Linked DNA regions of Homo sapiens: region 1 is linked to region 2. Evidence: fine-mapped expression QTL. A gene starts in region 2. The other region holds a variant in brackets. All regions are shown on one strand. Distances are between the middles of the regions.

The links. PIP is the estimated chance that this variant, and not a neighbour inherited with it, causes the effect. A credible set is the group of variants that fine-mapping cannot tell apart.
Region 1: its variant is the best candidate, but not a certain one, in a credible set for the expression of ACCS in whole blood (INTERVAL, PIP 0.50).

Annotation. Positions count from the first base shown.
Region 1 is chr11:44,038,623-44,053,915 of GRCh38, forward strand. ACCSL (1-aminocyclopropane-1-carboxylate synthase homolog (inactive) like) reads left to right here and starts at 9,359. Exons shown (of 14, transcript NM_001031854.2): 1 at 9,359-9,918; 2 at 11,440-11,499; 3 at 11,930-12,000; 4 at 12,713-12,782; 5 at 13,031-13,097; 6 at 14,040-14,137; 7 at 14,369-14,446; 8 at 14,784-14,884. The coding sequence starts at 9,415. The variant G/A (reference allele first, on the strand shown) is at 7,053.
Region 2 is chr11:44,058,541-44,073,833 of GRCh38, forward strand. ACCS (1-aminocyclopropane-1-carboxylate synthase homolog (inactive)) reads left to right here and starts at 7,730. Exons shown (of 15, transcript NM_032592.4): 1 at 7,730-8,161; 2 at 9,088-9,375; 3 at 12,716-12,775; 4 at 14,907-14,977. The coding sequence starts at 9,088. It overlaps ACCSL (1-aminocyclopropane-1-carboxylate synthase homolog (inactive) like), which reads left to right. Exons shown (of 14, transcript NM_001031854.2): 13 at 6-159; 14 at 1,298-1,437. The coding sequence ends at 1,380. RefSeq lists enhancers at 7,370-7,499, 7,600-7,689, 7,710-7,899.

The DNA.
Region 1 (15,293 bases), 20 kb before region 2:
AGTGAGGGGGAGAGGAATGCAAAGGATGAGAGTAGGGAGCTAGATGTGACTGATTATTCCAAAGCTCTATTTGCCACACTGAAGAGCTTGCAAATGATGGCTACAGGGCTGAAATCAACGGGCAAAATGACTTTGCTTGGCTGGCCTTACTTTTTAAAAAATTTTGAATGCCTATTGGAGGAATAGGCAGGCTTCCATTAGCCTATGTCCTCCCCAACCTCTCCCTTTTCCTTAAGTCAGCATTGTACTTGTGTCGCCACTGTGTCCCTGAAGGTATTTGAATTTGCAGTCTCTGTAAGGTGAAGGGGAACTGTCAAAGGATCTTGAGCACAGGAAATAGGGGATCAGACTTTTCCATTGGAAAGTTTATTCTGGGGCTCCTTCAAGTCAGGGGATTTATTTCTTCATTTTGATGCTCCCAGGGTCTAAGACAATACTTGGTATCTAATAGGTGCCCGGTGGATTGTTTTTAGTTTTGTTTTTAATGAATGGGGAATGAATAAACAAATGACAGAGGAGATGGGCTCCCAGTGCAGGACAGGATGGGGGATATGTGAGGTCCTGCCCTCTGGGGTAAGGTGCCTGCCCACAGCTAATGCTTCCTTTAGGTGTGGAATCTACTATGGCACTGTCTTTCCAAGAGTCTTCCAGAATCACCTGTCATGCTTGTTTTAAAAAGCAGATTCCTACCACTCAGCCATAAAAAAGGAATGAATTAATGGCAATCACAGCAACCTGAATGGGATTGGAGACTGTTATTCTAAGTGAAGTAACTCAGGAATGGAAAACCAAACATTGTATGTTCTCACTAATAAGTGGGAGCTAAGCTATGAGGATGCAAAAGCATAAAAATGACACAATTGATTTTGGGGACTCGGGGGGAAAGGATGGGAAGGGGGTGAGAGATAAAAGACTATAAATTGAGTTCAGTGTATACTGCTTGGGTGATGGGTGCACCAAAGTCTCACAAATCATCATTAAAGAACTTACTCATGTAACCAAACACAGCCTGTTTCCCAAAAACCTATGGAAATAAAAAATAAATAAAATGCACATTCCTGGGTTCAGTTATACACCTACTGAATTGGAATCCTACTGATGTGGAGCCCAGGCACCTGTGTGTTAAACAAGCTCTCATTAAAGTTTGCAAAGAGGCACAAGGCAGAGTATTCTGGGGCTACAGGCTGCCTTGGCCTTGCTTCTGTGTAGACCCCTAGAGAAAGCAGCACAGCAGCTAGCTGCCCAGGGCAAGCCTGGCAAGCCCACAGCACATAGTCATGGGCGGTTCCACCTGCCCTATCACTTTAGCATATCTGCTCCCGTCTAGTCCTCATACCACCCTCGGGGAGGTAGGTTTCATTACTGCCATCTTTAACAAGGAGAAACTGAAAACCAGAAAGGCTAGGTGGGTTTGCCAAGGCCACACAGGCAGGGGGGCCTGGGCAGATTGGGATCCAGCTCTCCTGGGTCTCCTTCCTGATCTTTCTTGCCAAGTTGTCTTTTCTGCCCTGGGTTAACCCACTTCAGCTTGTTCTCAAATCATGACCTCCTCAGATATGGGGAAAAGTCAGTAGCTCATTTGTGTTTTAATTGGGAGTCCCTTGCTCTAGTAGTTCTCAGTAGTTTGTAAGTATTAGAATCACCTGGTGGTCTTGATAAAGTACGTAGGCCCAGGCCTAGCCTACTTCAAAGAGCCTGGTCCTGTAGCACTTGATTAGTTCTCCAGGTGATGCCAATACCCTCCAAAGTTTGAGAACCGTGGCTTCAATGAGTGGTTCTCCCTGGGTGGGCGTTGCAAAGCCTTTTCTCTGTAATGGGGCAAAGAAAGCCCACTTTAGGTAATAGGGAATTCCTGGGGAAGATCACCCTGGATGGGAAAAGGTGGATCTTATTATTACCTCTAAAGTCACCTTGTGCCTACAAGCAGAACATGCAGGCCACAGTGGTAAACACATTCAGTGAGGAGGGCGGCAGAGCAGGTCCCTGAGTGCTGACAGTCAATGATGGTTTGCTCAGTCAGTTTCTAGGCCAGAGAAAAGAAGAGTGAAAACAGATACAGAGGTAAGTGCTGGTGGCAGGGTAATGTGAGCTGTGGGATGTAGAGTGAGAGAGGTACTTTGGACCCGGTGATGCCTAGGGCTCCTGGGCCTCCAGTGAGGTAGGGTCCCTCATGGACTTAGGTGGCTCATGGATCCCCAAAAGTGAATGCCAAGCTTTGAGAGTATGTGCGCCCTTCCAGGGAGAGGCCTTAAGGAGGAATGTTTATAAGGGCAATGGGGCCTGAGGTTGACCAACTTGGGTTTGAAGCTCCCCTTTCCACGTCCTACTCGTACCATCTTGTGTGATTCATTGAGCCTCTGTTTTCTCACCTGTAAAGTGAGTCTAATGATGGTACCCTCCTAATAGGACTGTTTTGAGAATTAAATAACATAAAATACATAAGGAACCTAGACCAGAGCCTGACTTGAGGCAGTGCTTGAATAATGTTTTAGCTGTCTTTGGTAATATTGTGGTTCAGAGAATTCTATGTCCCCCATGAATAGTTTACGTCATTCATAATCATTCAGGTCATATCTGGGGACCTTGCTAAATTCAATGGACTGTAATGAATTATGTCCTTAACCGTGTCATCTGAAAGTTGGGGATAATTCTTACCTCACAGCAGTTGTTAGGGTTAAGTGAAAATGAAACTACTTGAATGGGTCAGCTAGGTAGTCATTAGGCTCACTTTTTAGCTAAGTGACCAGCCTTTTCTTCCAGATTACTAATTTTCTTTTTAGCTATATCTAATTGCCTGCTAAACCCTTTTGTTGAGGTTTTCCATTTTTGGTCCTTATATTTGAACCTCTAGGATAGGTTGAAAATGCTAGTCTAGTGTTTACCAAAGTCTGACCTATGTGTATATGCAACATAGGCATAGCTGTGTTCCAATAAAACTTTATAAAAACATGAGATGGGCCCCTATTCTACAACTATGTTAAACTCTTGTAGATCTTCCTTTAATTCTCTTGTGTTTTCCAGATGTATAGTAGTAGTCTGTAGATAGTGATAGTTCAAATTCCCTTTTCTGACTCAAATTTCTTACCTTGGCTAATATTCTTGGCTGAGACTGCTGGTACAATGTTAGATATTTAGCAGAGACAATAGGTAGGCCTTATCTTGTTTATGAGAATCCCTCCATTGTTTCCCAATTGTGTAGGAGGCTGGCTTTTTAGCTGAGAGATGTTTCATGTTAAATAGGTACCATTCATTTAAATAAGTTGTCTAAATAAAGAATGGGTGCTGAATTTCGTCAGGTATCTTTTTAGCATCTATAGATATAATTGATTTTTTGAAACTCCCTAGGATCTATTAATGAAAAGTTGATATAAATAATAGTATTAAACTAGTCTTACATTCTCATATAACCCCACTTGGTCATAAGGTTATTTTATGGTGCCATTGGATTCCATTTGCTGAATGCTATTCAGCTTTTAAGATATTGATAATCTACTCATAGGTGAAATTCATCCATAGTTCATTAAACTTCATCAAATCTTTATCACTATTTATTTGACTATAAAGTATGGGGTTTTTCTTCTCTAAAACAATTTAAATAGCATTGGAGTAATATACTCCTTTAAATATATGGTAGAATTCACCTGTGAGACAGTCTGGGCCAGTTACTTTCTTAGGGAGTTAGCTCTTTTCTAACTTCCATGGGAACTGATTTGTTCAGATTTTATTTCTCTTCTGGGATTAGGACTAATAAATTCAGTTTTTATACTAAATTGTCCACTTCATCCAGATTGAAGTGTAGCCATAGAACTATTCAAAATAGTCTTTAGTCCTTATTTCTGTGTACATGCTTTCTCCTGTTATTTTTATTTTTATTTTTTTTTGTAGAGATGAGATCTCACTATGTTGATGAGGGTGGTCTCCAACTCCTCAAGCCATTCTCTTGCCTCAGCCTCCCAAATGTTTGGATTACAAGTGTGAGCCACCATGCCTAGCCTTCCTGGTTGTTTTTTTTTTGTTTGTTTTGTTTGTTTTTTTTGTTTTTTTAGCTTGTCTTTTTTGGAACTAGCTCACTTTTTTCTACTATAAAATAATTATGCAAATATCCTGTGTAAGTATGAGGCCCAACCCCATCCTGGTCTTTCCACTGGAAAGGCTAGCATTTAAAATAAAGTTGTTGACTGGGTGCAGTGGCTCACACCTGTAATCCCAGCACTTTGGGAGGCTGAGGTGGGCAAATCACTTGAGCCCAGGAGATTGAAACTGGCCTGGGCAACAAGGTGAGACCTGGTCTCTACAAAAAATACAACAAAATTAGCTGGGCATGGTGGTGTGTGCCTGTGATACCAGTTACTCGGGATGCTGAGGTGGGAGGATTGCTTGAGCCTGGGAAGTTGAAGCTGCATTGAGCTCTGATTGCACCATTGCACTCCAGTCTCGGTGACAGAGTGAGACCCTGTCTCAAAAATAAACGTATTTAGCTATTTATATTCTAGCAGAGACTTAGTTCGCTATAGCTACATTTTAAATCTATTTAAGTCTGATAAGATTCATAAGTATACCGTTTGAGCTTGGACAAATGGCTATCACCATCTACCTACCACTCCATCAAATAGAGATCACCTCCATTTCCCTAGAAAAGTTCCTTGGGCCCCAGTGCAGTCAGTTTCCTACACGCCTCCCCTGGCAACCACTAGTCTGAGGAATTGGTATTGCCTGTGGAAATACTGATCCTGTGATGGTCACAAGATTCTAAGTGGAGTTATTTTCTTTCAGTACATTGAAAATGACATCCCACTGTCTTCAGGTTTCCACTGTTGATGAAGTTAGCTTTTGATCTGTTATTCCTTGAAAGGTACATTTTTTTCCTGGATTGCTTTTGAGATGTTATCTTTGTCTTGTTTTTTGTAGTTTCACTATATAGTGTAGATTTCCTTATCCCAGTTAGCATTTGGACTTCTTGAATCCATGCTTTGATGTCTAACTATCTAGCACTGAAGATACAGCTTATTCAAATGATTTTTGTCCCATTTTCTCTTCTTTTGGGACTCCAAAAAAATACATCTGTGTGTGTATTAGATTTTTTCATATTCTCTTACTTTCTCTTGTCTTCATGCCTTATTCCAGAAAGCTTCTTCAGCCTCTTCTTCCAGGTTAGTAATTTTATCTTTAGAGGTTTTAAATTTTTGGTCTTTATATTGTAACCTCTGGGGATCTCCTGTTTTCCTTCAAATCTGTTATTTTAATAAATTTTAATTTTCTTTCCATTTTTAAACTTGGATTTTATCTCCTTCAACAGAAAAGCAATTATTTTATAATCTACTCCCAATAGCTGGAGACCAGTTGGTCTTTCTCTTGTCTGTGCTGGTGGTTTTAGGTCATGCTGTTTATTTATGTACCTGATTTTCTATATGCTGGACACAATATTTTAAAAATGCTTTGAGAAATATACTCTATGGTAGCAGCTTCCAGAGTGTTTGCTTACTTCTACCTGGAATTTTGAGTCACCAAAATACGGTATGATTTAACCCAATCTCAGAACTTGAGACTTTCTGGGTATTATGTGACATGAAGCCAGGCTGGAGTTCATGCAAGGACTGGTTTTCTACTAGTTCACTCTGCTTCCTAGGGCTAAAATGGGAGGCTTGGGGTTTAAATCCTGGCTCTAATGTGAGACCCTAGAAGGTACTTATCTTCACTGGGCTTCAGTTTCATCACATTCTTCTCATCTTACATACGGAGAAACTGATGCCCAGACAGGGGAAGTAATTCTTCCAACATCCTACAGTTAGTGAGCAGCAATTATAGAATAGAGCCTAGGCCTGTCAAGGGTACTTCTACTTGAGCTTTCAATTTTGCACCTTGTATTTAGGGATCTATATCCCCAAATAACTTGCTTCCCCTTACATGCACATGAAGACGATTCTGCAATCCCTATCATACTTGCCATACCCAGAAGGAAGAATCTGAATTAGGTGAGAGTACTGAGACACCAGAGGAGGCTGGTGTGTGGCAAGAAGAAGGAAGGCTGGAAGAGTTATAAGGGCTTGTAGGGCACTAGAAAAAGTGATATTAGAAGTATCCTTCTGTAAACAGTATAGCCATGTGCTGGCATCAAAAGTGAACTGCCAGCCTGTTCCCACTTCATTTCCCACATTCATTTCTCCTTCCCAACTTCTGTTCATGATCTGTCTTTCAGCTCTTGTCAAAAGGCTGCTAGCATCTACTGGGCTGATCCTGGGATACTGGTTCTAGCTGCTAGAGAAGGCCCCCGGGTGAATGGAAAGGTAGATGGTGGGAGGCTGACGAATACTGAAACCAATGGTATAGCCAAGGAGACTTGAGGAGAGGATTGGTATACCCCCGGTACCAGACAACTTAGGGCTGAGGAATAGGGGCATTGTTGCCTTTGTGGAATGGTGTCATTTACAATAGACTTTTCCCATAGAAAGATGAGTCTTGGCAGAAGTCCAGCTTCTAGGTTTACTCCTGGCCTTGCTGCATACTCACTTTGTTATCAGAGAACACATTTTTGGGACCATGCATGGTGGCTCCTGCCTACAATCCTAGCACTTAGGGAGGCTGAGGCGAGAGGATCACTTGAGCCCAGGAATTTGAGACCAACCTGGGCAACATGATGAAACCCCATCTCTACAAAAGATACACAAAAATTGGCTGGGTGTGGTGGAATGTGCCTGTAGTCCCAGCTACTCAGGAGGCTGAGGTGGAAGGAACGCTGGAGCCCAGGAGGCAGAGGTTGCAGTGAGCCATGATTGCACCAGTGCACTCCAGCCTGGGCGAGAGAGTGAGATTCTGTCTCAAAAACAAACAACCCCCCCCACAAAAAAACCAAAACATTTTTACCAGGAAAACGCATTACTTTCAGTTACCTGCCTTGGCCCCCATGTTTGCTATATAAATCTGCCCTGGGGGGTTCTCATTCAAACTACTTTAAACAAGTTTCCTCCTCCATTTGCCTACTAGGCCACACTGGCCTCCAGCTTCCCTGCCGCATCCTGGTCCCTATTTCCTATGTGCCTGGAGTCCCCGGCTGA[G/A]TGCTTGGTATATGGGGCAGACTAGTGGGACTTTGGTAACAGCAAGGACTTCCATGGCAAGAAGTCTAAGAGCCCCTAATTTAACTGAACTGGAATAACTAAAATTCTGGGACCATGGGCTGAGCTGGCTGATGTTACAGAGCTGTCCAAAGAGCTGTCCCATCTTTGACTTTGTTGTTAAGGTGACACAGGGCAAAGATACTCAATGTGTAATTCCAGTCCTGGGAAAAGGAAGAAGATGCCTGGTGACAATAGCTTCTTGTTCATTGGAGGGAGGTTACCACCCCGATCTTGGCTCTTTCCACTAGCACTCCGCAGGACCAACAGGGATGATAGGCACCACCTTTTGGAAGGCAAAACCAAAGGAATCTCACCTGGCCCTTGCAATGCTCTATGATAATCAAGTATTTGGAAAGATAGTGTGACTTACCTACAGAGTTGAGAGCCCCATTAAAATGAATCTCTTCTAGGACAGGGAATTTGGGCCAGGGCAAAGTTCTTGCTTGTGGAAGAGACGGTTTCTCTAGGCATAAACACTTATATTTGTTCAATTTCTTTCTCATCAGTATGTTCCTAACACTGAATAAAGTTTTTGCATTATGATTAAAGGTTGGGATCGTAAGTCAAGACTTGATACAGCTTTGTTCTGTGGCTTTCTCTGTCTATTGCTCCATCTTCCATGGCCAAAGTCTTCATTTATGGCTCATCTCTTCCCTGACTTGGCAACATCCTTGTGGTTATGCCTCTCCTACTCATTAACTATGTTAGTTGCCCATGTGCCAAGGTACTGTGCTAAGAATGTAATACTGAAGGCTGACCTGGGCAGACACTGAACAAGTAACAATATTAAATGTCACTAAGGTGAGGTATAGGTTGCAATGGGAACATCACAGGCAAACTGAACATGGTTTGAAGAAGTTGGACAGAGTGTTTGGTACTCTGAAGTACTGGTGCCCTAAATTTATAAAAGAAGCAACGAGGTTTTTTTTTGTGTTTGTGTGTGTGTAGGGGGATGTTACTTAGGGGGAAAAACTTGGAATTGTAGCATTTGGTGGAATGGGCATAGGTCTAGATTTTTAGAAAAAAGGGTCTTGATATCTTGGGATATAAGGATTGTCTTAAAGAAGTAGTGGCAGCTGTTGGCCTCAAGCTTTCCTACCTTCTGGGATCTTGCTATCTGATTTATTGATTCTTTGAGGCTTTAAAAGGTATTTTTTGGTCTCGTTCAGTATTTAACTTGTTTTCAAAAGGAAGGTTAATCCTAATCGTTGGAAGTTTGTTGCAGTAAGCCATAATCATGCCACTGCAATTCAGTCTGAGTGATAGAGCAAGACCCAGTCCCTCCAAAAAAAAACAAAAACAAAACAAAACAAAATTGCTAAGTATAGTCCCAGGAACTTGCTAGAAATGAGGATTCTCAGGTCTCACCCCAGACATACTGACTCAAAATTCAGGGGTGAGGTCTCACCATCTGTTTCCTACCACGCCCTCCAGGTGATTCTGATGGACTTCAAAGTTTGAGAGCCATGTACCTAGCCCATAGTTACAAGTGATGGAAGCCTAAGGCAGCTGTCACAGTGAGTAGGTGGAAGGCATTTGCAGGAAGCCAAGTGAGGATAGAGGAACTGAGGAATCTAAAGGCTTTGAGTATCTGGTATGGCCAACCTGGAGAAGAAAAGGCAAAAAGAAGGGCTGATGTTCTTCAACAGGGCTTGGCAAACCTTTTATGTAAAGGGCCAGACAGTTAATATTTTAGGCTTCGTGGACCACATGGTCTCTGTCACGTGGTCTCTGTCATGACTATTAAACTCTGCCATTGTAACACAAAAGCAGCCATAATCAAGACATAAATAAATGAATGGGGCTGTGTTCCAATAAAACTATCTACAAAAATAAGTGGCAGGCCAGATTTGGCCCTCAGGCATTAGTTTATTCTAGCAGAATGTTTTACTCAGTGGGTAGTGATGGTGATTGTTTTTGAGCAGTAGAAACCCTTTTTTCCTATTTAACCAAACAAAGCAGGAAGTGCTCAGGTTGAAGAACGGGGTGGAAAATCCAGAGCCTCCTTGTTCATATCCCCCTGCTCTTCCTCAGAACACATCCTAATGCCATTTAAATAGAGCACTCAGTGTCTAGGCTTGAGGCCATGTACTCATTGCCCTAAAGAGTAGGTAACTCTTCATGAACCAATCTGGTCATATAACCAAGGCATGGAAGTGAGAAGAACAGATCTGAGATCTGTTCTGTCTCCATCCATTCCTGGACCTGAGGGTCCAGGAGATCCTCCTTTGCTCCATTGTCAATGGTCTCTTTCTCCATAGGTGCCAGGCAGCCTTCAGAGGCCAGTAAAGATACCCGGAGTATGAGTCATCGGTCAGACACCCTTCCTGTGCCCTCTGGTCAGAGGAGAGGCCGGGTCCCCAGAGACCACAGCATCTATACCCAGCTGTTGGAGATAACGCTGCACTTGCAGCAGGCCATGACGGAGCACTTCGTGCAGCTGACGAGCAGACAGGGCCTGTCGCTGGAGGAAAGGAGGCACACTGAGGCCATCTGTGAGCATGAAGCCCTTCTGAGTCGCTTAATATGCCGGATGATCAACCTCCTACAGTCTGGGGCCGCGAGTGGCCTGGAGCTCCAAGTGCCTCTTCCTTCTGAGGACTCTAGGGGTGATGTCAGATATGGGCAGAGGGCCCAACTCTCTGGGCAGCCTGATCCAGTTCCCCAACTGAGTGATTGTGAAGCTGCCTTTGTCAACCGCGACCTATCCATCCGTGGGATTGACATCTCTGTCTTTTATCAGTCGAGCTTCCAGGACTACAATGCCTACCAAAAAGATAAATATCATAAGGACAAGAACACCTTGGTGAGAATTTGGGGTGGGGGGTGGGCAGCATCCTCACGGGCTCCAGTCACTTGGATTTACTGAGTCCTGGGCCAAGTGCTATATATGCTCTCATTCTTTATAGCCTTATGAAACGGGCACTCTTGTCATCTTGCAGATAAGGGAATAATTACAGAAATAAAGTGACATGCCCCAGAAAGTTAGAGAACTCCATCCACCCCCACATCCCTCCCTCTCCCTAATCCCAGCTCTTAATTATTAGGAGTTGGCCCCTGTGGTCACAGGGACAAATGAGCCTGCCGTTAAAGAACTTAGCGTAGTGATGAATGGAGTCAGCCACTGGGGCACAGGCATTAATAATCTTCCCAAGAACGTGAAAGGGATGCCCACTTCAGGTGGTCTGGGAAGAGGTCTTAAAGGCTGAATCAGCCAGCCATGTGGTGATGGCCATGGCCATGACCCTCCAGGCAGGAGGAACAGCACACGTGAAACCTTCAAGATGCGAAGGGCTAGGAGTGATTGGGAAAGGAGGTCCAATGGCCAGAGTAGGGACCACTGGTGCTGTGGCAGGAGGTGTGAACAGAGGTGGATGGGAGGTGTTAAGATGTTACCCTAAGAGGCTGGGCGTGGTGGCTCATGCCTGTAATCCCAGCACTTTGGGAGGCCAAGGTTGGTGGATCGCTCAAGTCCAGGAATTCGAGACCAGCCAGGGCAACATGGTGAAACCTCATCTCTACAAAAAATACAAAAACTAGCCAGGCGTGGTGGCACACACCTATAGTCCCAACTATCTGGGAAGCTAAGGTGGGAGGATCACTTGACCCCGGCAGCTGGAGGTTGCAGTGAGCTGAGATCGCGCCACTGCACTCCAGCCTGGGTGACAGAGTGGGACCCTGTCTCAAAAAAAAAAAAAAAAAAAAAAAAAAGGAATGTTACCCTAAGGGCGATGGGGAACTGATGAAAGGCTTCCAGGAAAGGGGGTCCTTAGCAGCTCTCCAGCCAGAGGGTGGAGGGTGACATTAGCTATACCTTCCCCTTCTGTTCCTATCTCTGTTCTCCTCTAATAACTTAGAAGGCCCTAATGTGTAAGGAGAAGTAGCAGAGGTAGGTGCCAGATGGGGCCTTGGGGATTAAGGGTCCAGGCTCAGGCGTCAGGTAGGTAGAGTTCTACTTTTCACCCAAGGTCACATGGCTAGTAGGCTATTCAACTTTTCTAAACTTCACTCTTTAAACTGGATTATATAGAACCTTCTTTTCAGGAATTAAGACAACTCACAAGAAGCACTTGGTCTAGTATCTGGTACATAATAAGAACTCAATGACTGGTCGATAGGACATAACTTATTTATGTGGCTCTAATGGGGAAATTTGCAAGCTGTACTATTTTGGGTTCATGGAAAGCTTTCCTAACGTGTAAAGTTGTCAAATTTGGATTGAATTGCCTCATAGGCAGTGAGATCTCCATTTGAACTAATGTTTCAAGGGATCTATGTAGGGTGGAGCAAGAGGACTGACCTGATCTTGGATTCCTTCCATCTCCAGGGTTTCATTAACCTTGGCACCAGTGAGAACAAGCTCTGCATGGATCTGATGACTGAAAGAGTAAGGATGTTCTGGGCTGTGTTGGGACCCACCCCTTCAAGGCTTAGTCCCCCTAGCGTGCTCCTGAGCTATGGTAGATACAGGGGTGAGACATAGGAGCCTGGGAAGAGGAGTGAAGAAATAGCTTCTAGAATAGCACATTTAACCTCCTGGCTTTGCTGACTGTCCAGAGATATTCTCTGATTAGGTATATGGTGGGAAAGTTGCTATGGGAACCTCTGGGTCAAATACTTCCCAGTGAGGTATCTACTTGTGTAATTTATGACAAGATGGTAGCCTCCATTCATTAAGGAGCATGCAGTGTATATACCCATTCCCTTTCTAGGAGGTCATGTATGTGGAGGGCAAACACTCATGTACAAACTAGGAGTAGAATGAGGCCTCTTGAACTTCCCTGGCCTACCTGTCTTCATGTTCTATTTGTCAACAGTTGCAAGAAAGTGACATGAACTGCATTGAGGACACCTTGCTTCAGTACCCTGATTGGAGAGGGCAGCCATTGTAAGTGACCTTCAGATTTAGAGTCTCTTGGTCCCACAGGCAGCTGTCCTTATCCAGAAGGAGGATTCAAGGCACCAAATTCCTGGTTGGTTACCTCCCTATCTCTTTGGGTAATAACTTCTAGAAAATGCCTAGAGCAAAACTTCATCAGGAGGCAGCCTGGTATAGTAGGAATAGTTATTCTGGTATAGTAGGAATAATTCAAAAGGCCTGAGTTCTTTTTTTTTTTTTTTTTTTGAGATGGAGTCTCACTCTGTCACCCAGACTGGAGTGCAGTGGTGCTATCTCAGCTCACTGCAGGCTCTGCCCCCTGGGTTCAGGCCATTCTCCTGCCTCAGCCTCCCGAGTAGCTGGGACTACAGGTGCCCGCCACCACGCCCAGCTAATTTTTTGTATTTTTAGTAGAGACGGGGTTTCACCATGTTTGCCAGCTTGGTCTTGATCTCCTGACCTTGTGATCCACCCGCCTTGGCCTCCCAAAGTGCTGGGATTACAGGCATGAGCCACTGTGCCCGGCCAAGGCCTAAGTTCTTGTCCCAACTCTCATTTATTGTCTGTGTGACTTGGGGAGTTGATGGTCTTAGTCAGTAGCCCTGTAATATGAGGTTGGACTGAGTAGAAAAGGTCCCTGTTAGGCTGGACAATGACCATCTAGACCATGAGTGAGGAAAGGGGCCCGGAAGCCACAAGGTCTCTCTGGGTCTGTTTACAGCCTGCGGGAAGAAGTGGCCCGGTTCCTGACCTACTACTGCAGGGCACCTACCCGACTTGACCCAGAAAATGTGAGTCAGTTTCCCAGCCTTGCTGCCACCCTGGTGGAGGGCTATATTCTTGGAGGATGCTCTGCCCTTTCTAGGGGGTACAAGGAGAACCAGTGAAGACTCTCAGGGCCAGGGCAGCATGAAGGCCAATGTGTCCCAACTGAGGAGGCTCCCTGTGCCTGTTCTGCCCAGGGGGATGGAGAAAGCATGGCTACCCCTTCTCACATAGGTATTGGTTTTGACTTCTGCCTCTCATGTGTTGTCTTCAGGTGGTGGTTCTAAATGGCTGCTGCTCTGTCTTCTGTGCCCTGGCCATGGTTCTGTGTGATCCAGGCGGTAAGTCAGTGGGCTCTCCTTTCACTCTCAGTGAAATACTAGCAACACAGGTAGGAACACACGGGCACTGGACTTTGAGGAAGAAGAGCATCCTGACTCAAGGCCTTTTCCCCAAAGTGGTGGGCCTTCTCCCACACTGACTAGGTTATCTTCCTATTTCTGTGGGAACAAGGGGTTTGGATTCTCCATTTAAGGGAAGAGAGACATGGTGGACCTCAAGGAGGTATGCCCCAGGAATGATGATGGGAGCCTACCTACTATGTTCATGGCTGGGCTTTTGGGCTCAGCTGCAATACAGACAGCCATGGCAATGGACTCAGACAATATAGATTTCTTATCTCTTCAGAAAAAGGCTAATTAGTCCTGGACCCAACAAGGTTGAGTGGACTGTTCTGAACCTCCCCGGTAACAATGCTTAAGCAAGAGGCTCCAATGTTAAAGAGCTCTGGATGCATCAAAAGAAGTGCTAAGATAGTCCCTTTCCTGCAAAGGAGCTTCTCTCAGCTCATCAGTAAGGCCAAATGGATGGGAAGAAAAGAACGTGAGATCACCATGTCCAAATAACTGGAGCCCTCCTTGTGCATGGACCTTGACCTCTGATATTTGGCCTGAATCTGTTGAGACTTTCCTGATAACCATTGCTCCATCTGCTAGTGAGCCTCGCTTGACTTGTGCCCTGGATTCTGAGTTACTCAGTGATATTCTTCCCTCTTCTTCTCTAGTGTACCCGCAAAGAAGAAACTAGAGTTTTGTTTCCCCCAGTGATGTCTATAATAATGGATAACTTTCATAGCACCTGAACCTAAGAACATTAATCCCCAGGTAGAAAGGATCGTGAAACTGACTTTTTTTCTGTCGATAGCTTTGCTAGTTTGGGGAGCCTGGCAACAGGCTCTGATTGGGAGACTTTGGACTGATAGCTCTGTCTCTCTGTGTTTCCAGAGGCCTTCCTGGTCCCTGCTCCCTTCTATGGTGGCTTTGCCTTTAGCTCCCGCCTGTATGCAAAGGTTGAGTTGATTCCTGTCCACCTGGAGAGTGAGGTCTGAATGGGGCCCCTTCCCTGCTCAGTATGCCTAGACAATGGACTGTTCTGGGGACACCTAAAGGGGTAGAGGGGCTTGCTTTCTACCCATCTAAGTGGTTGGGTAGGGGTGGAGAAGGCATGTGGACTGGCACTCTGGTATGAAGGCAAAGGATTGCGGGGCTTATGGGAATGAGGAATCAAGACTTAGATTTTAAGAGACACTTCTCACATAGTGTTTCTCTTCCAGGTCACTGTTACAAACACCCATCCTTTCCAGCTCACTGTGGACAAGTTAGAGGAAGCCCTGCTTGAAGCTAGGCTTGAGGTAAGGTGGGAACCATATTTTTAGGATGGCCACTGCTGGTCCTAAAAGGGGTTTGAGTATTGAAATTCTGGTACTGCTTATTCACCAAGACCTGGTGGGCTGTCCTTAGTTGGAAGAGACAGTAAATGATCCAGGGGTGTGTCCCTCTAGTCCTGTGGGGATGTTATGGCAGCCCCAGACTTCCTTCCTGTTTCCCCTCTTTGGGCAGTATAGTAGTTGCTGCTTCAAGACCCTACCTAGGCCTTTTTGGGTGCCTAACCTATAAAAGATCCTTGGCTGAATTTAGGGTAGATGCTAAGGACTTGTATTCACTCAGTTATATTTGGGTTTTTCTTAGGGGAAAAAGGTCCGAGGCCTTGTGCTAATCAACCCTCAGAATCCTCTGGGTGACATCTACTCCCCAGACTCACTGATGAAATACCTGGAATTTGCCAAGAGGTATGAGTTCTACCCCTTGAGACTAGGTAATGTTTCTTGAAAGGATTCCCATCACTTATAGTCAAGTAATCAAGAGCCAGATCTGGTGGCACATGCCTGTAATCCCAGCACTTTGGGAGGCCGAGAAGGTGGATCACTTGAGGTCAGGAGTTCGAGACCAGCATGGCCAACAGGGTGAAACCTTGTCTCTACTAAAAATACAAAAATTAACCAGGCATCATGGTGGGCACCTACTATCCCAGCTACTTGGGAGGCTGAGACATGAGAATTGCTTGAGCCCGGGAGGAGGAGGTTGCAGTGAGCCGAGATCATGCCACTGTACTCCAGCCTAGGCAATAGAGTGAGACTTTGTCTCAAAAAGTAATTTACCCTAAATGGTCTCACTATACACCATACTTTGCAGAGTTAT
Region 2 (15,293 bases):
CCTAGTACCTGGATCCCTGTACATTTGAAGAAGAACGGCTCCTCTATTGCCGCTTCCTGGACAACAAGCTATTGTTATCCCGTGGCAAAACCTACATGTGTAAGGAGCCAGGCTGGTTCTGCCTCATCTTTGCAGATGAGCTCCCCCGGCTAAAATTGGGTGAGTGGAGCTGACCTCCCAATCCTTTAAAGACGCCCCATCAATTTAATATGTCAATCTTCTCCCCCACCCCCCTTAAACATCCTATAGATCTAGCCCTTTATTCCCTGTTTCCATGTCTATCTTTAGTTAGGTGCTCTTGCAAACAAGAACTGATATGTACCTCAAGCACCTATCCATTCATTACCCATTTGGGGTATCTGTTCTGTGACTGCCATTGAGTGAGGCATTGGGACCACAAGCTAAAAAGTAGTACTCTGAGGCCAGGTGCGGTGTCTTATGCCTGTAATCCCAGCACTTTGGGAGGCCGAGGTGGGTGGATCATGAGGTCAGGAGTTCCAGACCAGCCTGGCCAGCATGGTAAAACCCTGTCTCTACTAAAAATACAAAAAATTAGCCACGCATGGTGGCGCACGCCTGTAATCCCAGCTACTCGGGGGGCTGAGGCAGGAGAATTGCTTGAACCTGGGAGGTGGAGGTTGCAGTGAGCTGAGATTGCGCCACTGCACTCCAGCCTGGGCGACAGAGTGAGACTGTTTCAAGAAAACAAAAACAAACAAACAAAACCCGAAAAAAGTAGTACTCTGCCCTTGTGGGACTGGCAGCCTAGTAAGTGAGATGGATAGGCAGATGACCATGGAAGTCCCTGTATGCCATACTAGAGAGTTTAGATTCTCCTCTGAGGTTATAGAGAATAGGACATTCATGTGAACATTTATTTATTGCATTCCACTACATGCCAGATGCTGTTCTACCTGCTGGGAATATAGCAGTGAATTGTTCATTCTCATGAAGGTTTTTGTTACAGAATTCTTTTGAGCTAGCATAGAAGATAGGCTGAGTGAAGAGACACTAGAGGCAAATAGAAATCCTGATTAGGCCAAGGCCATAAGCCCGAGAGTACAGGCTTTGATACAAGACATTGAGATGTCTCGCAGGCTGACATAACAATGATATTCAAAAAGAAATCAGGGATGCAACATGTAGACTTGGAAATCCATCCCAAAGGTGGGAGGGCTGAAGTTCAGGATCCCTGAATGAGAGGCTTTTATGGTTGACCATGACCTGGGTATGTCTGGGACCCACCAGCAAACCTACTAAATCACTATTTCTCTCTGTCCCCATTTGAACCCTCTAGCTATGCGTCGGTTCTGTGATGTGCTGCAGGAGCAGAAGGAGGCTTTGATAGTGAAGCAGTTGGAGGATGCAATGAGGGAGTAGGCCGTCTGCCTCCCAACCAGCAGTTCCAGCCCATCACTTGCTCAGGGACCCCCTAATGTCAGCCTCTGGCCCAGAAGGCCAGGGTGTCTTTTTGTCAGTGTTGCGATGGAGAAAATGGTGGGCTCCTCCAGGAAGATCTCATCTTACCCGGTTGTCACCCTCCTTAAGCTGAGTGCCTGCTGTCTTTGGAAGCTTTCCATCTTTTTAGTCTTTGCTAGCCATTATATATGCAAAATGTTTTTATCGGGGTTGGGGTGGAAAGGCCTAGAGACACCTAGAGAAATAAAGGGAGTTCTCTGGGCCCCTATTTAGATGGTTTATTTTTATATTCAGTACCTAATAAATTCTATACTTTTAAATTCTAGGCCCATCTTATTTTCTTGCTTATATTCTTCATAATCATCTTTGGAAGCCAGATGATTTTCTGTCCTCCTTAATTTTTAAATTCTAAGGCAGGTTCTATGTAAAGAATACTGTCTAGAGCAGGCCAGAAAAAGAAAGAAGTCATCCTTAACTGATGGGCCATTTTCCAGGTGTTGGATGCAATGTTCTATAAGATTCTTATGAAATCACATCCACTTCCACATGACCTGCTAAGAGGCAGGTGGGAGTATAATTGCAGGTATTCCTGCTTCCAAATACTAGAGTTTGTTCCACTTTTACCTTCCCAAAAGGCTTTTAAAGTCTCTTGCTGGGTACGGTGGCTCATGCCTGTAATCCCAGCACTTTGGGAGGCTGAGGCCAGAGAATGGCTTGAGGCCAGGTGTTTGAGACCAGCCTGAGCAACCGAGACCCTGTCTCTACAAAAAATAAAATTAGCTGGGTGTGGTGATGTGTGCCTCTAGTCCCAGCTATTCAGGAGGCTGAGGTGGGAGGCTCGCTTAAATCTAGGAGACCAAGCCTGCAGTGAACCATATCGTGCCACTGCATTCCAGCCTGGTTATAGAGTAAGACCCTGTCTCTACAAAAAAGAAAAAAAAATCTGACAAGCTTGGTGTCTTAGTCCCTTCATAATATGAAAATATCACAAAGTGGATGGCTTAGAAACAAATCTTTCTCACAGTTCTGGAGGCTGGAAAGGCCGAGTTCAAGGCCCTGGGAGATTTGGCATCTGGTGAGGGTCCCATCTTCCCAGTGTCATCTCATGTGGCAGAAGAGGTGAGAGGTCTTCCTCTGCCTTCATGACCCAATCACTTTTCAAAGGGCTCACCTTCTAATACCATCACCTTGGGGGTTAGGATTTCAAATATGAATGTTGGGGGGACACATTCAGTTCGTAGCATCTGGGGTTGTCCATTTCCATTTCTAATGTTTTCAGCTGTTCAAATTAAGCCACCCATCAGTTTCTCTGCAAAGCCCTTGCATGTCAGAGCACTGATACTGTGAAGTGGGCAGAGAAGGGACTACTACGATTTTATGGATGAAGAAAGAGCTCACAGTACCAACTGGTGGCTTTAGTCGCTTGGGTTTGTGGCCGTACTTGCTCCGAATCCAAATTTGTTTATTCTTGTCAGTTTTCTTGTGTGTGTGTGTGTATGTGTGTGTTTTTGTTGTTGTTGTTGTTGTTGTTGTGAGACTGAGTCTCACTCTGTCGCCCAGGTTGGAGTGCAGTGTCACAATCTCGGCTCACTGCAACCTCTGCTGCTGGTTCAGCGATTCTCCTGCCTCTGCCTCCCAAGCAGCTGGGACTACAGGCACGTGCCACCTCGCCCAGCTAATTTTTATATCTTTAGTAGAGACAGGGTTTTACCATGTTGGCCAGGCTTGTCTCAAACGCCTGACCTCAAGTGATCCGCCTGCCTCGGCCTCCCAAAGTGCTGGGATTACAAGCTGAGCCACCGCTCCTGACCGATATAGCTCTTTTTAAAAAACCTCTAGTATAACGTTGAATAAAAGTGGTTGAGAGGACAGCCTGCCTTGTTCTCAGTCTTAGTAGCATTGAGTGCAATCTTCTGCTCTTGAGTATAACGTTACTGTATTTTTCATTCTGTCCCTTATCTAATAAAGAGTCCTTCTATTACTAGTTTGCTGGGAGTTTTACCATGTATGAGGGTTCAATGTTGTTAGATGTTTTTCATCTGCATTTATAGAGATATGATTTTTCTCTTGATTATCAATGTAGTAAGTTACATTGATTTCTTAATGTTAAAGCAACTTCACATTGCTGCAATAAACCCCATTTGGTCATGATGCATTGTCCTTTTATATACCATTGAGTTTGGTTTGCTATTTTAAGAAGTTTACATTCAAGAAGGACATCATTCTATAATTTTTTTTTTTGTAATGCATTGTTAGTTTCAGTATCATGATTAATACTGGTTTCATAGATGTTTGGGAAACTGTTCCTTCCTGAATTTTCTAGAAGTTTGTGTCCAAAAACTTCTTCAACCTTTAAATATTTGGTTGAATTCAGCTGTAAAACCATAAGGGCCTGGAGGTTTTTTTTTTCTTCTTTTTTTTTTTTTGTGGGACGGCTTTTACTTATAAATTCAATTTCTGTGACAGTTCGAGTTTTCTATTTCTTGTATCAGATTTGGTTATTTGTGCCTTTCAATAAAGTTTGTCTATTTCATCTAAGTTTAATTATTGACTTAAAATTGGTTATAAATATTCTGTTATCCTTTTAATACATTTAGGATCTTTAGTTGTATCTCCTTTTCCTTTCCTGATACTGAAATTGATACATGCAGGAGGGGGATTACGGGGAGGGTCTCCGGAGAATCTCCAACCCATCTGTGCACTGGGAGAACAAGATGGAGCCAAGGGAAGCTGTGGCCATGCTCAGCGGGGAGGAGCCTGGCCTCTTCAATTTCTGTGTGGTGGCCTGGGATTCAATGTGAGTTTGGAGGCCTGTTAGCAGGACCCCCTCTTGCTCTGCTGACAGTATTTTTCTTTTTTCCTTTTTGCCCAGTAAATTCCGTTCCCCTCACCCTTCAATGTGTCCATGTTCCTAATCCTTCCTGGTGGTGTGACAAGAACCCGGTTTTAGCTGAACTAAGGAGCAAAATTCTGCAACAAAATGAGTTTTTTTGATCAGTCAATCTAACTGTTTATCAACTGTATTGAACTTTTCAAAGAACCAACTTTCAGTTTCATTGATTTTTCTCGTTTCGCCTTCATTTCTGCTCTTATCTTTATTTCTTTCTATTTACTTTGGGTTTAATTTGCTCTTTTTTCTAGCTTATTAATGTGGAAGCTTAGATCATTTGTTTTAAGTTGGTTTCAAATATATGCATTACAAGCTATTCATTTCTCACTTAGCATTATTTTAGCTACATTCCATAAACTTTGATCTGCTGGTTTTTAATCATTCAAAATATTTTCTAATTTCCCTTGTGATTTCTTTTTTTAAATCAATGGTTTGCTTAGCATATGTAACTTAGTTTCCAAATATTTGGGGACTGTTCAGCTTTCTTTGTTAATGATTTCTACTTTAATTTCATTGTGACTAGAGAATGTACTCTATGGTTTCAATCCTTTGAAACTTATTAAGACAGTTTATGGCCAGATTTGTTTACAACATGTGGTCTATCTTAATGTTTCATTTGCACTTGAAAAGAAGTATATTCTGTGGTATTGGGGATGGTGTTCTATAAATGTCAATTAGATTAAATTTTTGTATAATGTCCAAAAGTTCTGATCCTTAGTGTCTTTTGATCCATTTGTTCTATCACCGAGAGAGTGGTATAAAATTTTCCAATTATTATGAACTTGTCTTTTCTCTTTTTCGTTCTGTCAGTTTCTGCTTCATGTATTTTGAAGCTTTGTTATTACGAGCATAAACTTTTAAGATTGTCACCCTGATAAATTAATCATTTTATTCTAAAATGCCCCATTTTATTTTTGTTAATTATTTTTGTCTTGAAGCCTACTATCAGATACCAATATGAACACATCAGCTTTTTTCATGATTATTATTTGCTTGTTTTTTTTCACATTTTTACCTTTGACCATTTGTTTTTGTATTTAAAGTGTGTCTCCTGCACACACCATATGCTTGATTCTTGCTGTTTTATCCAGTCTGATGATCTTTTAATTGATCTTTAGTCAATTCACATTTAATGTAACGTGTGTGTATGTCTTCCACTTAGGACAAGTGCCTGTGTTTGTTGTTTCGTGGGGTTAAATCCCCCTGCTGCATGTTTCCATGGTACCCAGTAAATAGTCTTTTTAAAATAGTCCCCACATTGTAAGTCGGCCTTCCCAATCAATCATGCAGGCTTTGGTTTGTCTTGCTCATCACCGTATCCTCGCATTTTACAGAGACCTGGCACATAACAGGCATTCACTGAGATGTGAATTACATAGAATTAAGATTTAAATAGAGGAAAATAATCGCTTCCTTATCTTACAGAAGAAAACAGTAAGGGCCAAAAAAGTCATGAGAGTTGCTCAAGGTCACAGTGTTAGCTAGTGCAAGGCAAAAGTGAAGACAAGAAGTGGAATGGCCAGAAGACAGCCATGTCTTCCCAGCCATACCTGTATTGAGAGATTCTGCTTATTTCCTTTCATGGGGAAAGAAGACTTTCCCATTCAAGGCACCTCAGAGACTGCAGCTCTACCTGGGACCTGGGTGCCCACTGTACCCATTGCCAGAATATGTAGAGCTTAGGGCAGAGTTTGAAAAATACTTTTGAAATTATATGTGTGTGTGTGTGTGTGTGTGTGTGTGTGTGTGTGTATGTAATTTTTTTTTTTTTTTTTTTTTTTTTTTAGATAGAGTCTCGCAAACACCCAGGTGGGAGTGCAGTGGCACGATCAAATTCACTGCAGCCTCTACCTTCTGGGCTCAAGTGATCCTCCCACCTCAGCCTCCCAAGTAGCTGAAACCACAGGCACATGTCATCAAGTCTGGCTAATTTACAAAAACATTTTGGCTGAGTGCAGTGGCTCACGCCTGCCATCCCAGCACTTGGGAGGCCGAGGCGGGCAGATCACGAGGTCAGGAGTTCAAGACCAGTCGGGACAATATGGTGAAACTCCATCTCTACTAAAAATACAAAAATTAGCCAGGCGTGGTGGTGCGTGCCTGTAGTCCCAGCTACTGGGGAGGCTGAGACAAAAGAATTGCTTGAACCCGGGAGGCGGAGGTTGCAGTGAGCAGAGATTGTGCCACTGCACTCCAGCCTGGATGACAGAGCGAGACTCCGTCTCAAAAAAACAAAAAAACATAAAAACCTTTTTTTGGTAGAGACACGGTCTCTCTATGTTGCCCAGGCTGGTTTCAAACTCCTGGGTTCAAGGGATGCTCCCACCTTGTCCTCTCAAAGTGTTGGCATTACAGGCGTGGGCCGCCACACCTAGCCAGAGTTCAACAAATATTGCAGGCACGTGTGGGAGACCAGGACATGCCTCCCCAAAACATGAAGGATTGTGCTAAAGACAAGCAGCAGCACATTCAGGAAAGCTCTCTACCCTGGCCCTATTTGCCTAAAAGTAGGACACAGGTTTACAAAGACAAAAGGTATCCTGTCCCTCTGTCTACCTAGGAGAACAAAGACAACTTTAGACCCCTATGGCCTGGAGATGGTACCAGAGGAATTTACATTAACAAGCTTGACTAACTGGCCTTTGTCTTTTTTTTTTTTTTTTTTTTTTGCCTTCTCACAAGTTGCCTCCTGGAGAGACTCAAAGCCCTATTTCTTTGTCTTGTAACTTAAAAAAATTACTGTTCTTTGTTGAAGATGCTATAAAAACTGGAATTCAAAGTCACCTCTTCCAGAACGACTCATTCCCTCCAGATTTCTCATGTATAAATGAAATACACATGTCAGTAAATTTCTGTCTGTTTTTCTCTTGTTAATTTGTCTTTTGTAACAGGAGTCTCCCCCAACTAAGAACCTATGAGGGCTACAGAAAATCCCCTACAAATGAAAGGGGCAGAAATGACAAACTGCGATGAAAGGCCATAAGGATGCTCACACCCGAATCTAAAAAGCCCTTTGTGTGGGCCGCAGCCAAGCATACTTTGGCAAGAAATTTCTGTGGCTCTAACCTCCTTTGAAAACTGGAGAACCAAGGCCAGGAGGCAGAAGGAGGTGGCAGACCCGGCCCGGCGGCGGCCCAGCACGCGCAGGCCACCCAGAGTGGAGGTGGGAAACGGCATTACGCCCCTTTCCCTTTTCCTGGTCCCGCGGTGCTACCTCGTGTGCCACCCTTAAAGCGTAGTCCCCGCCGAGACCGCCCCCGCCTGAGTGGCAAGGGGACGAACTGCGCCCTGAACAGGCCTGGAAGCCCAACCCGGTGCGGACCGCCCTCAGTCTCCTAGTCCGGGCGCGCTGAGCGCAGGGGGGCGCTGTCCTCACCCACGCGTAAGTCGCCGCAGGGCGTTTCCGGGCGGAGAAAACCTACACGTGATGGGCGCCCACCGAGTGCCAGCACCGCCTCCTCCAGCTCCGCCAAGTAGGTGGGATCCACTACTTTGCAGAGGAGGAAGCCGTTCAGGCCTCCCTCTGTGCACTTTGCAAAAGCCTCTGCCCTTCCATCTCGAATCCCTTGGCGCCGATCACACTTCCTCTGCCTGGAAACCTGGAGCCGTCTCTCGCGAGACGTCCTCCGCCCTGTAGAAGGCCGTTTCGGTTCTTCGTGCGCGGTAGCCGCCCCACTTGCGGGATTCCAAGGCCTCATCGAGTGCGGGTATCTGGCTGTGGATTCGCCGCCGTCCTGCTGGACGCCTGGAGGCTCGAACCCCGCCGCCCCCCTACCCCAGGCTTTACTCCCACCCCGGCTTCCGCCCACTGTGCTGCCCTTCCTCGGACCTGGGCTGTCGGGAGAGCTGGAGGTGAGCGCTCTTGGGAGAGCCCAGCCAATTTAAAGAGTACCCCTGAGAAGACTTTGCGGAGGAAAATTTAACTGCGGGTACCCGCTGAGTTTATGGTGCGCCCAGTGTTACCAGAGCTTGTGTTGTGCATCAGGACTGGGAAAATTGGCAAGGAGTTACGCTATAATGACTCATATTTTATTGAACTTTGGTCATCAGCCAGGATTTGTTCTAAGTACTTTATTGTCACTAACATATATATTTATGTCTTCACGGCCACCCCGAGGTGGTTACTGTTATATCCACTGTGCAGATGAGGAAACTAAACTGGCTTAGAGAAGTGAAGGAGTTCACACCCGCGGGCAGGAGTAGACCACCCTCTCCTTGGTGTCCACACCTCGTTTCTTCAGGACTGAAGAGGCAGGCCCTGGAGCTCTGCCTGGGTTGCCTGCACTTGTGGAGGTTCCCATTCCTCCCTTCCCTCAGTTCCTACCCGCCATCTGCCTCAGAACACCACATAATCTCATCCTACCCTTTACACCACAAGACCCCCAGGACTCCCAGGCAATACTCTGCTTTAACTCAGGAAATTTTAACCTGGCATTTGGTAATTGAGGTGAGCAAGGGTGGAAAAAGAATGTTGATGACCCCTTAGGCTGGAGAGTGAAAAACTTTTGCAGAAGTAGAACACGCTAAAGCAGCAATACATTAAAGTCACGTCAATGTGGCAAGTGCAGTCCCTGGCACGTACTAGGTCCTTAACAGATTTTTCTTGTTGAAGTCGTTGCACATATGGTTACAGCTAAGGGACACAGGAAGTGATGAGTGCATAAACCTAAAGGAAGGGGCAGATAAGAGAAAGGGGACTCCCATGACTCCAACTCCTTTCTGATGCTTGGTGCTATGGAAATCCCTTGAGCAGGCCTGTGCGTTTTGTCTTTTTGCAGATGTTCACCCTTCCTCAAAAGGACTTCAGGGCTCCCACCACCTGTCTGGGCCCCACCTGCATGCAGGACCTGGGCAGTAGCCATGGGGAAGATCTGGAAGGAGAATGCTCCAGAAAACTGGACCAGAAGCTGCCAGAGCTCCGTGGAGTGGGTGATCCTGCCATGATCTCCTCTGATACCTCCTACCTGTCCTCTAGAGGAAGAATGATTAAATGGTTCTGGGATTCAGCTGAGGAGGGCTACAGGACCTACCACATGGATGAGTATGATGAGGACAAGAACCCCAGTGTGAGTGAAGCTCCCCTCCCACTGGGACCCAAGAGAGAACTGCAGGGTGGGGTACCCTACCTTGACCAATAAGGCAGCATCCAGCCTGCTCTTATGAGGTTGGAGTTATGGTACTCTGACCTCCAAGAGGGCTTCTGATGTAGCTTAGAGAGGCCCCAGTGTACTGCCTGGATCAGGAAATGGTCCATTTAGAATATAGGGGACCTTGATTTCTGAGGGAGGAATTCAAGAACCATATGATGTTCTATGGATTCTGACCCACGACCTGTCGACTATCCAACTTTAGAGCTAGGGCAGAACTAAGGTTCAGGTTGCAACTGTTTTACTTATAGGTTGTGTGTTGCTGAGCTAGTTACTTAACTTCCTTGAATCTTAAGTTATCTCTAAAATGAGATAATAAGGCCAAGCATGGTGGTTCATGCCTGTAATCCCAGCACTTTGGGAGGCTGAGGCAGAGGGAACACTTGAGGCCAGGAGTTTGAGACCAGCCTGGGCAGCATAGCAAGACCCCATCACTACAAAAAGGTAAAAATAAAAAAATTAACAGGGTGTGGTGGCGTGCACTTGTGGTCCCAGCTACTGGGGAGGCTGAGGTGGAAGGATTGCTTGAACCTGGAAGGTTGAGACTATAGTGAGCCAAGATCATGCCACTGCATTCTAGCCTGGGCAACGGTGTGAGACCCTATCTCAAAATAACAACAAACAAACAAAAATAAAATAAAATGGGATAATAATACCTGTTGTGTAGAAGAGTCAAGATTAAATGAGAGCAAGTATATGAAGTTTTTAGCACAGTGCTACTCAATAAATGATAGCTGCTATTATTATTTTCTGTCCCAAATATAAGCTATTCTCATAATGCCTTCAGAAGTCAGAAAGCTGTTACAAATAACCCTTTAATAATCTTTATTTGTTGAGCATCTACCATGTAGATGTGAACAGAAACAAAGTTCTTATCCTCATAGAGCTCATATTCTAGTTAGGGAGACAAACAGTGAATGAACAGAGAAAATATATGTATACTATATGGTGGTGAGTACTATAGAGAAAAATAAACCAGGTTAAAGAAGACAGAGAAAGATGGGTGGGCTGGGGATGTTGCTATTTAGTAGAAGGAGGTCACAGAAGGCTATTTTAATAAGATGAACATTTGAGCAGAAACCTGGAAAAAGTGAGGGATTGTGTTAGTTATCTATTGTTGCATAACAAATGACCTCAAATCTAGCAAGTTAAAACAACAATTCACAATTTTTGGAGTTCAGGAATCCTGGTGGATGCCTCAGGCTCAAGATCTTTTTTTTCCTTTTTCTTTTTCTTTTTTTTTTGTGACGGAGTCTCGCTGTGACACCCATGGAGTGCAGTGGCATGATCTCGGATCACTGCAACCTCTGCCTCCCGGGTTCAAGGGATTCTGCCTCAGCTTCCTGAGTAGCTGGGATTACAGGTGTGTGCCACTATGCCCAGCTAATTTTTGTATTTTTAGTAGAGACAGGGTTTTGCCATGTTGGCCTGGCTGGTCTCAAACTCCTGACCTCAGGTGATCCGCCTGCCTCCGCCTCCCAAAGTGCTGGGATTACAGGCATGAGCCACCGCGCCTGGCCAAGCCACCGTGCCAGTCCACGCCACCACGCCCAGCCTCAAGATCTTTTGTGAAGGTGCCATGAAGCTGGGGCTGTGGTCTCATCTGAAAGGTTGACTTGGGGCCAAGGGATTGGGTGGGAGGCTCTACTTCCAATGACACTCTTATGCTTATTGGCAGGCTTCAGTCCTTCTCCACGTGGGCTTCTTCACAGAATTGCCTCATGGCATGGTAGCTGGCTTCTCTCAGGGCAAGTGATTCAAGAGAGAATCACTTGGGTCATGGTACCCAAGATGGAAAGCCACAGACTCTTTATAACCTAACTTTGGAAGTGACATCCCATCACATCTGCCTATTCTGTTAATTAGAAGCACGTTGCTAGGCCCAGCCCATACTCAAGGGGTGTGAATACCAGTAGGCCTTACAGGCTGCGCATCACAGGGAGTAAGCCATGCAGTTATCTAGGGAAGAGCATTCCCAGCAGAGGAAACAGCCAGTGCAAAGGCTCCAGGGTTAGATCATGCTTGATGAGTTCAAGGGACAGCAGAGGGGCTACTGGAGCTGGAATAAAGCCAAAAACAAGATGGGCAGGCGATGGGGTCAGAAAGAGGATGGGGTGGTGGAGGTGATAGAACCTGTAGGGCCCCACAGGACCTGGTGAGCCTTCTGATTTTGGACAAAGTGGAATAGGAGGTATTCAAAGGAGGAGCAGTGTGGTCTGAATTTGGGTTTTGAAAGATGTCTTGGACTGCTGTATGGAGATTTGACTTGGCAGGTGAGACAGTACACAGAGAGAGGGGAGGGAAGCTGTTGTAATAATATAGACAAGAAATGATGGTGGCTTATACCAGGGTCCCAGCAGTGGAGGGTGAGACATGGTTGGACTGTGCATGTGTTTTGAAGGTAGAGCTGCCAGGATGTGTGGACAGATTGGCTCTGTTTCGAGGAGCTTCCCAGCTTGCTTACCAGGTCGTGAAGGAGCACTGCCTTTTATTTTGTCATAGCCTGAGCTCATTCAGGTTTTACTTTTTCATCTTCCTTCCTTCACTCCCCCTGCAGTAACTCAGGGGTCAGCAGTTAGCTGTGCGTGAGGCCTGCACCGAGTCTCCCTGGGGACTCTGTAAGGGAGAGCTTGGGTTATGCCTGCCTGCCTATCCTATGACAATAAATGCCTGTGGGGTGGGGATCAAGGTATTGTGTGATGTTGCAGGGTCTCCTGGGGGAGTATTTGCACTGGCAAAGGAACCTCTTCTTGATCTACATCTACCTTTGCTTCTGTTCCTTCCAGACTGCCAATATACCATCTCTATTCTTTCATTCTGTAAATGTGTATTGAGTCCCACTAAACCCCTCGAGAGAAACAGTGGTGTCTTCAGCACACATCTGTCCTTCAGGGAGCTTACCCTCAGTACGGGAGATACGGTGTGTACCTCAGTCCCTGTGACCTGGGGTGGAAACTGACCAGTTCTCTAAAGGGGACAGATCAAGAGCTATGGGATCCAGAAGAATGTATCCCTTCCAGGTGGGGTTATAGGGGGGACTTCATGGAGGACATGGCATTTGGACAGAGCTTTAGAAATGGGAAGATGGGATCAGGCAGCTGAGCAGAAGGCACACCTTGAGCAAAGGCAAGGAGGGATGTTTGAAAGGGTGGGATTGTAGAGAGCTCCCACTTTGCTTTGCTGCCTCCATGGGCTCCTGGGGCCTTTCACTGGCACCCCCCTGCCATGCTAACTCTGCCTCTGTACCTCTCATCTCCAGGGCATCATTAACTTGGGCACCAGTGAGAACAAACTCTGCTTTGACCTGCTGTCCTGGCGGGTAAGTCCTAGGGCCCCTCTAGGGGGCATCACCAGCTCCGAGGAGCTGTCTTCCCTGGAATGCTTTCCCAACAGGAGCCTGCTGCTTGGCTCAGTGGCCCTGGCCTGGGAATCAGGAGACCCGGGTTCCAGGCCTACCTTGGGACAGTTTTCTGTGTGATCTTAGGTGAGTTTCTTCCCCACTGTAGTCCTATTTCTTCATCTCTGTAGACTCTTATTTCACTCAGTCCCTCCTGCTGTGTTGGGTCCCCTGATCTCAGAGGGAAACACTCAGTGCTTTGTGGTGTAGGTATTTAGCAATTAGCTCTTCAGGGGGACAAAAAAAGCCTGATGTGTAGTTTTGCCAATTTCCGTAGTGTAAATACTCCCACCATGGCTGATTTCAAGCTCCTTATGTGATATCACTGCAGGCAGAGTTGGAAGAGAGCTGCATGGGCACACTTATGTAATATTTTCACCATATAGACATGTAGACAGAACTGACCTCAAAAACATAGATAGTAAAAGGTACTAGCAAATCAGGAAGCAGTGACGTTTGAGTGCTTATCACCTTTGTTTGTAAGATAATGTATTTCATTGTCAGTTTATATTAATTTGCTTTTTAAAAGTGGCTGTTTTTAACACAGCTTGCAACATTTCTGAAAATTTTATAATCCGATTTCTTGAGCTGTGGTAAGCCATCTTAGCAACCACTGACAATGCCTAATAAATGTGTCTCCCAAGGCGGCAGTGGCAGAGTTTGGGTTTGTAGAGACAGCAATCCTTAACCCAAAGGAACATATTTCCAAAGGGAGAAATCTCAACCCCAAGGGGAAGGGGTTATAGGGAATAGATTTTATTTATTTATTTATTTATTTATTTAAGATGGAGTCTTACTCTGTTGCCCAGGCTGGAGTGTAGTGGTGTGATCTCAGCTCACTACAACCCCCTCCTCCCGGGTTCAAGCAATTCTCCTGCCACAGCCTCCTGAGTAGCTGGGATTACAGGCACACACCACCATGCCCGGCTAATTTTTGTATTTTTAGTAGAGACAGGGTTTCACCATTTTGGCCAGGCTGGTCTCGAACTCCTGACCTTGTGATTCGCCCGCCTTGGCCTCCCAAAGTGCTAGGATTACAGGCGTGAGCCACTGCACCCGGCCAGGGAATAGATTTTAAAGGCCTGTTTTACCTAAAGCCAGCTCCTCCTTCTAAGGCAGCTAAGCACTGAAATAAAAGGTGAGCCACATATATCAATTTAAATTTTCTATTAAAAAAAATAAAAAGATGCCAGGTAAAAACTAATTTTAATAATATATTTTATTTAGCCCAATATATTCAAAATATGACCATTTTAGCATGTCATCAGTACAAAAATTATTAATGATATATTTTACATACTTTTTTCCTACCAAGTTTTCAAAATCCAGTGTGTCTTAATTCAGATGAACCACATTTCAAATGTTCATTAGCCACATGTGGCCAGTGGCTACCATGTTGGACAGTGTGGCTCTAAGGGAGGAAGGGAGAGAGGGCAAAGGCTGGACCCAGTTATGTAGAAGTGGCTGATTCCCTTTCTTCCTTTTGGCCCCAGTGCGTAAGGCCCCTGCATTGGCCCTTCTTTGACAAAGGACCTACAATACTAGGAGTTTCTAACCTAGCACTGGTCATGGAATGGGTGGTCTAGAAACTGCTACTTTTTTTAAAGTGTGAGGTTGAGCTGAGCTTGCAGGAAGACAGTGGCCTAAGTCCCTCTAGAAGTTGGAGCCAAGACTGAGGTTCTAGCTCTCAGTATCTTCTATCACCCCATGGAGATGCTGATCAGTGTGCTCTTCCGTTAATACTTTTGCAAACCCACCCCTCCGATTTTTTTAGGTGGCAGTGTTGTATAAAGAATGCCAGACTAGGAGTCAAAAATTTTGGGTTTTTGTCTCAGCTCTGCCACTTGCTAGCTCTGTGACCTTGGCTGAGTGACCTCACTTTTTTGGACCTCAGTTTCCTCACCTGCAACATGGGTATGAGAAAGCTGTCACTCTCTGCCCCTCTCGCAGTTTCTCTGATGAGCAGAACAAGCGTTCAGCTTTACCTGCCCTGTGCTGTGGATGCTGGTAGCAGTGCTGGCCCTCAGCCGTGCTCTTCCCTCTCTGTCCCCAGCTGAGTCAGCGCGACATGCAGAGGGTGGAGCCATCCCTGCTGCAGTATGCTGACTGGAGGGGACATCTGTTGTAAGTAGTTGCCATAGGGTGAGTTTGTCCCCCTGGGGATGTGTGGCAATGTTGGGAGACATTTTTGGTTGTTATAACTGGGAAGTCAGGTGCTCCTGGCATTTAGTGTGTAGAGGTCAGGGATGCTGCCTAAAGTTCTACAATGTACAGGACAGCCCCCACAATGAAGAATGACCTGGCCCCGAACATCAGTAGTGGCAGGCTGAGGGCCTAGTCCTGGAGACCTGGCGACTATGGGGTCTCCTGCCAGTCCCACCTCAGCACAGGAGCTCGCTAGTCTGGTTTCTGGGAACCTGGGTTTAAAGCATGGGGAGGG